2 linked regions of the Homo sapiens genome follow. The protein of the gene in region 1 purifies or fractionates together with the protein of each later gene. This does not show direct contact. Each region holds a gene or a part of one and is shown on either strand. Other genes may lie near its edges.

Region 1 (3,814 bases):
ATCTCCAGCTCTCAAAATCCTATCTATCCTTCAAAGTTCAGTTAAAATTCTATTTTCTTCATGATTACTCCCTTGAGCACTAGAGCCTGAGGTCTATTCTCCTTCCTCTACCCTCACCTTGCAGTGACCTGTAGCTGTTTGCTCACATGCTCCCTTTGTTAATGGGCCTGTTGTGTGCTCTTCTGTAAGATTTCGAAGGGTGGTGACTGTGGCTCCTGCATCTGCATCAACATATTCCAGCACAGGGATTAGCGTACCAGAGATGTCAAACAAATATTTGCTAAACAAATGACAAAGAGTTCAAGACTGCCAATTCTTTCCCCTAAATCTAGGCCTAATGTTTCATGTGCAGCAATAAAGAGAGCTTCATAGTATTTTAAACGAGGCTTGACTTTGTGATCATATTCATCTGAACTCTGTTCACAAGATGAAAACTCTTCATCATCAATTTCATAATGGGGTCATGGAAATTCTCAAATCTCCCTGGCTTCAGAAAGGATAGAATAATTTAACAAACCAAGACCAAGGACCTGAGTTGAAGCTTATTCACCTAAGACCCTCATCAAACCTCCATAAAATGGGCTAGCAGTAGAGGGCTCTACTCCCTCCATCCCCCTCAGAGGATAGCAATGTGTCCATGGGTAGTGGACTACAGAGGTGCTCAAAGCAAAGGACTGACCCCTGTAGCCCCACTAGGAGCACATCACAGGAGACAATCCTCAAGTCAAAGTCACATCAGCCACCTTTCCCTTTGGGACTGAGGCCTAGCTTCTTTCCAAAGAGCTGTTTTGGTCAATTTCCCAGAAATTCTTCAAGTTGCGTGTTAAGTAGACACCACAGGGTGAGAGGACCCAGTAGGCTGGAGAAGGTGAAGTACTGAAAATAGGGGCAGGTGTCTGTCTACCTTGGGCTTCTGAGAATCAGATCGAAAGAGGACAGGACTATACTATAATGAAAAAGCAGGCCATCACAAACAGCTAACCACTACCTAACGAAATTTTCCATACCACTGCCAACTCCAAGAACCACCCAGGGGCATTATTTGCAGGCTTTTTTCTGAGGAACTGAGATACAAACAGTACCACTGCAAAGCTTTATACACTTCCTCCTTCCTTGGAGTAAAGCAAACTTTAATTAGGCCAAGAGGATGTGCAGAGCTATAATTAAAACCTAGCTACAAGCTCTTTTCTCCATATGAGATAAAGTCAATAACCCTGATGGTTTCATGCACCTTTTCAATGAAAGAAAAAAATGTAGGTGAGTTTCACACCTGGTTCTGGATGACATAATTCATGGAGTGAATCTTTTTTCTTTGAGACAGGGCCTGGCTGTGTTGCTCAGGCTGGTGTGCAGTGGCACAATCTCAGCTCACTGCAACCTCCACTTCCTGGGCTCAAGCCATCCTCCTACCTCAGCCTCCCAAGTAGCTGAGACTACAGGTGCACGCTGTCATGCCCGGCTAATTTTTATATTTTTGTTGTAAAGATGGGGTTTCACCATGTTGCGCAGGCTGGTCTTAAACTCCTGAGCTCCAGTGATCTGCTTGCCTTGGCCACCCAAAGTGCTGGGATTCCAGGTGTGAGCCCCTGCACCCAGCCAGGAGTGAATCATTTTTAACGGTGAGTTGACTTTTCCCATCTAATAACACATTTAACCACAAACAACTTGTAACCTTTAGCATAATAACCATTTCCATGGCACTTTCTGGAATGCTACTGAAACATCTCAGGAAACAAGGTCACTGGAAACACTTAAAGAAAAAGGAGGAAAACATCATCTTGGGTGGCCCTTATCAGCCATTAACATCAGCATCCCAAGATGTCAGAGCAACAAGATAACCCCTTTCCAAAGAAGACTGGCTGCTTCTGGTGATAAGAGCTTGATGAAGCTGCATGTTTACTACCTCCTATGCAGAAATGGGGTAAAAAGTAATGAAAAATAGACTATCCATACTCAAGTTCAACTACATCACAGGACCTAAGGTGCTTTTCTAAGCAAAATCTCCAAGAATACGTAGGGTTGACCCTCTTCATAGCTTTGTTTCTGTGTGAGTCCTCAACTGTGTATTTTTTAGATCTGGTACAAGCTCGTATTTTTAATGAGAAAACAGGGAATGAGAAGTGATAAGGATGGCCCAGGTCTTGGTACCACTGGGATTAGCACAAAGGAATCCTGACTCTCAGTCCAAATGCACCTCAAACAGCAGTTCCAAGCATCTTTGCCCTTCTTCATCTGTTTTTGAATTCTTAGTAAGAACATGGTAGGGATACTCTGTCCATGAAGAATTCTGTGGAAAAGCAGACCTTTAACTGCATCTTTTTCTTCCGCAGATGTTTGGTTTAAAATTAACCATGAACTACTCAAAATTGAAAGTACCTATTTCCTCTAGGGTTTAGTTGGCCAATTTTCGCAGTGCTATTAGGGAGTGCCAGGTCAAAGCATGTGGTTTTTACATTTCAAATCTTTCATGTCCAGAGCATAAGGATGCCCATTAAGATAATTTCACACCCATGACCTCCACAGGTGTTTTTTTTTTTTCCTTCTCCTTGTGAACAGGAATACCCCTGGGTTATAGCTGAACGTAACACTCTTGGCTAAGTTAAAAAAGACAGGTTCTGTACACTTGAGAAGTCTTTAAAACAAAACACAAAGAAACAGCCTGTCCTCAATCCAAACTGAAACAGGTATGTCTGGCATTTTCCCTGAATCCTCAAGCCCTGCCCTCTTATGCTAGCAGTTCTCCCTGTTCAGGCCTCCCAGAACTTTCCCTCTGTAGAAAGCAGATGGTAAGAGTGCAATAAGCATTAGATTAGTTAGCCCAATACCTGACATAAGGTAGGCACTATCTGTCTTTGCTATGATCTTAGGCAAATGTTAAGTACTTTTGCTTCCAACTAGGGCTAAGGTGGTGCTGGATGTCCCAGCCAAAGTATAATTTGTGTCATTTAAAGGAAGGTCTCCAGCCTACCCACTGACGCCTGCTTTGCAGAGTTAAGTCCACTTTAGTTGAGGATCTGTAGAGTGATGTGCTCCTAGCTACACCAGCTGCAGAGCCAAGCTCTCCAGGTGTTGCAGGGGCAAGTTTAGAGGAGTGAGGCCTGGCTCTGGACAAGCCAGAAGGCTTCCTCTCTGTAGAAAGTATTCCCTTCCCCTCCCCTGGGTGTGGGTGAGGAATGAAGGATGTTTGAGCTGCATCCTTCTCTCCATTCTCCCTACCGTGAGGCATTCTCTCAGGGCAGTGTCAGATACACTAGGGACAACTAACTGTTTCCTTTCAGGCCCTGAGAGAAGTTTCTTTCTCAGCAAGGAATTTTAGTTGTAAGGAAACTAAGAGTGAAAAGTATTCTAGGCAATGATCAGGCATTTCTTGTAAGTACTAATTTCACCAGATGTTTCAACTGCTCTATACCTCTGCTAAATGGGAAAAAGAACAGCAAATAGCCTTTTCAAAGTATTTTGGTAAACAAAGTTATTTTTCAAATAAAATTCAATAATCAATTGCCAGGTTGCTTAAGTGTTTTTCCAAATCCTATTTTCCCACAATAACGTATCTATTTTAGGAAAGCCTGAAGGGAAAGAAAAACAACCAGTTTAGAATATTATGTTTCCAAAGCAACTGCTCTGTGGTTCCATCAGATGGCCTTCAAACCCAGAGCCTGGGGAGATGCTTTCACAGCCCACAATTACAGAGGTTAGAAAGCACAAACAAAGCATTCAGTCACCAAATGCTCAACTTCTTTCATCTTTCCAATAAAAAAGCATCACAAATTTTCAAAACAAATTCAAAGGAAAAAAAACTGACTTCTGGTTCTAG
Region 2 (3,814 bases), on another chromosome or scaffold:
TTTCCAGGTAGTGTCAGCAGAGAACAGCCAGAGCAAAAGAAACAGCCTCGAATCCAAGTACAAAGCTGTTGGCTCTCCTGGGCCTCAGCCACAATGCAGCACCTGAGACATGCCCAGGCATTAGAGACACCTCAACAGCTAGGTCCATGGACAAACCCTCATCTTCCCTGACCTGCTTCTCCCACAGGGCCTCAGATTCAGTAGCCTGCTGTCCACCCCAACCCCCCGCCAGCTGATCCAGGAGCTGGGGAGCCGTCTAACAACACCCTGCAACAGCCTTCACCTTCAGAAGTTCCCAGCATCTATGTGTGTGATGAGAATCACATGCGGTAACCTCTGTGCCTCCAAAGTCATTCCACTGAACTGCTACCCAGGAATGCCACCCCCCAACAACCATCCCCAGGGCTGAGATGAGCCAGACAGACCCTGGAGAAGACCCTCTGTGGACAGCGAGTCTACAGGGCAAGAGGAGTGATGTCTAGCCCCAGAACCGTCCCAAGAGGAGGTGAGGCAGGGCTGAAAGCCCCTGCTGTTCCCAAACCCCACTCCCAGCCAAAGCTAGGCCACATGGAGAAGCCCACGGAGCAGAGGTAATCCCAGAAGACAGCATGGACAGTGGCTTCAGGCTCAGGTTGCAGAGCCAACATGGCAGGGCCTCTCCAACTCCAGCTCAGCCACTCACCATCTTTGTGGTATGGGCCATGTCATTTATCCTCCCTGGACCTCAGTTTCCTCATCTGTAAGTGGGTTTAATAACACTTATCCTATCAGGTGGTTGAGAGAACCAAATGAGTTGAGGTCCATGTGCCCCAGCAAGTGCCTGGCACAGAGGAGGTCATGGGGTGAGCCCACCCCAGCTGTTAGGTTTGGGGCAGAGCTGAGCACAGCACCCATCTCTGTGGATCCACAAAATCTGCATTTTTGTCACATATCTAGAGAGGTCCACATTCAGTGCTTCTCTAGAAAACCGGGAACTACTTATGATTTATTCATCCCCTGGATAATCTGGGGCCTCTCCACTCCTCCTTCAGTCAGGCTCCCCAGAGCACTCTCCCTAAAAAAGATGCACCACAACCCAGGATGGGAAGGAGAGGAGCCCAGCAGGCTGGAAGCCGGGCAAACCCCCCAGTCAGACTCCCTCTCCCCCCACCCACCTCTGGGGTGTTTGCCCACCTTCCTTTATGTTTCACCACCTGAGTGTGTTCCCAGGCAATATAGTGTTGCATTTGGAAATCCCATAGCAATGCTCCTTAACTGGGTACAGAAGGAGCCCATTGCTGCTATTGGAGGGAGGTTCCCAGGAGAGGACACGCTCTGGTTGCCCCGAGGGGCAATGAGACTCCTCCCCAGGGAAGGCCACAGGCAGGCCATGGGCGAGTTTGGGGAATAGGGTCTTCCCAGCCATGACTCGACTCCTGATGGGGTCGTCATGTGGACCAGTCCTATTGAGGGGAGCAAGCCACCTCTCCTCTAAGCTCACCAAGGCCCACCCTGCTTCAGTGGGGACCAAAGCAGAATGAACATTCAGGGGAAAGAAAGGAGTGTCCTTCATTCTTGACTGAGCTGGGCTGCAGGGCATGGGCAGGCAGTCACCATGTCAGGTAAGCATCAAGTGCCCTCCACCTGGGCCAGGCTGCCTCCACCCAGGGTGTACTGCCACGCTGGGGCACCGCCCTCCCTGGGGCTTCCCTCTCCTGCCTTGGCTCCGCTCCCCAAATCTCATAGCTTCTTTTGTCGTGGTTTGCTCCACACCTTGGCGCACAGCCGCCAGAGCTTGAGAAAGGTATGTGGGAATCAGATGCTGGAGGTGCCACACGTCTGACAGTATTTTCGTTTCTCCCTAATTAGTGGACAAATTGGCGGGAAATAGCACACTAGCTGAGAAATCACAGTCCGAAATTCTCAGGTCCTTGCATCCCACAGTCCTCGGTTTCCAGGGCTGCGGTGGGGGAGCCTGAAGGCCTCTGATCCCCTCATCTCCAACCTAGAGCTCATTTTTTTCCTCCTTCTGGATAGGTGTAGAAGTTTTCCTTTGTTTCCACAGCTCTGATATTCCAGGGTCCATGTGGGACATTTTCCTCCCTCGTGCTAGTACCGGGCAAGCCCTCACCGGCTGCAAGCTCATGCCCTCAGCCCCTGGCAAGGGCCCTTTATCCTTCCATTCTCCTGTTCTCTTTCTAGAATTCCTACTATCTTGGTGTTACGCCTGGACTGACCACTGACCTCCTGATCATCTTCTCTGTCTCTCTCTCCTATTCCTGGGAGATTTCCTCAACATCTCCCTTCCAACCTTTCTATTCCATTTCACTTCTATTGCATCTTCCATTTCTAAACCTCTTTCTTTGTTCTCATTCATCACATGAGAGATAGTTGTTGCCCTCTGAAGATATCAGTCGTGACGTTTGCAGTTTTCTTCTTGGTGCATGGCCCCCGGGTTTGCTTGGTTCCATCTCTCTGGTCTCTGTCCTTCAGGGTCAGAGCCTTAGGTCAGATTTCCAGGGACCCTGCTTGGAAGTGACTCGTGACTGGGAGTGGGGACTGAGAGCTGATGAGACACTGGGACCCTGCAGAAGAGCTTGTCCCCAGAGCTTCCAGGGGTTGGGGGGGTCACTGCTTCTAGGTCCTTCCTCTTGGCTGGTCTCACTCCTCAGAAAGGACAGCTCCAATCCTACCCTAGACCACCCTCCTGGACCCAGTGGCAAAAGATAATGCGTATCAGCCGCTCTCTCCAGCCTCCCTCTCTGGGACACTGTGCCACGTTCTCAATTACATGGGAAGGCCCAGAAACCCTGGTGTCACCAGCTCCAAGAATACACCTCCAGTGTCCAGCTGGGGTGGAGGAGGGCTCTGGACACCTCACTGCTTCTCAGCTACTCTTGCCACTCTCTTGGGAGCTGGTGCTGCCGGCCGGGTCGTGGGAGGGCTCCGCAATGTCAACCTGGCTGTTCCCAGCTCCCCTTTTCCAGCATCAGGTCTGACTTCACCAAGGGCACTCAGTCAGTGGCTCTTGCCCACTCACTCACTGGCTCCTAAATGCCCATCGGGTTGCCTCCACTCCTGTCCTCCCAATCCACGGCTGGACATCTCTATTTAGTCTCTTTACCAAGGCTTTAGCGGGTTACAGAGAGGAGCAAGACCAGAAGCTACGAAGCTATGACCTCCTCTTCCCTGACTCCACCCCCACCAGTGGGTCCATTCCAGGCCTGTGTCCAGGCTCACTGAGGACCAGGAGGAGCCTGCAAAACCCCTTCCTGAATCCCAGCACCCCTTCCCAGCAGACTCAGAATTCCATTCCACTTGGTTCAGCAAGCAGTTCCCCCACAGAGTGGGGCTGCAGATGTGACAGCCTCAAGAAGCCCCCATCTGCTGGGCCACTAGAATGGCCAGGGCCGGGGAGGCTTCCTGGGGCAGGGCCATGGTCAGTGTCTCTACGGAAGACAGGGGCTGGGGTGCTAACATGCAAAAGCATGAGGCCAGCACATTTAGGGTCTGGCAGCAGCCACCAGGGGGTGGCACAAGACTGCAAAGCCAGAGGTGGAGTGGGGTGGGGCAGAGGACTGTGAGGCCATGAGCAATTTCCAAGGAGGTAAGGAGATGAAAAGCTTGGGAAGCTTCTAGAACAAGGGGACCTCCCTTCACTATGAGGTGTTGTCCACAATTACACCTGATATAAACCATTGGAACCCAATTCCTCTAAGTCCTCTGACCACTGAGGACAGACCCAGCCATGACTGGTGCTGTAAGAAAGACACATGACAATGTCCACCCAGCTCCAGCTGTAAGGAGAGGTGGAGCACCCTCCAGGCAAGGCATC

What was found.
Region 2: the proteins of ELOVL5 (region 1) and RAMP3 purify together in Homo sapiens (co-immunoprecipitation; one large-scale study listed by IntAct). This does not show direct contact.

Annotation. Positions count from the first base shown.
Region 1 is NC_000006.12:53,279,297-53,283,110, forward strand, and holds part of ELOVL5 (very long chain fatty acid elongase 5), read right to left. Parts: intron 1-3,814. UniProt on the Homo sapiens protein: Catalyzes the first and rate-limiting reaction of the four reactions that constitute the long-chain fatty acids elongation cycle.
Region 2 is NC_000007.14:45,178,069-45,181,882, reverse strand, and holds part of RAMP3 (receptor activity-modifying protein 3 precursor), read right to left. Parts: intron 1-3,814. UniProt on the Homo sapiens protein: Accessory protein that interacts with and modulates the function of G-protein coupled receptors including calcitonin gene-related peptide type 1 receptor (CALCRL), calcitonin receptor (CALCR) and G-protein coupled estrogen receptor 1 (GPER1).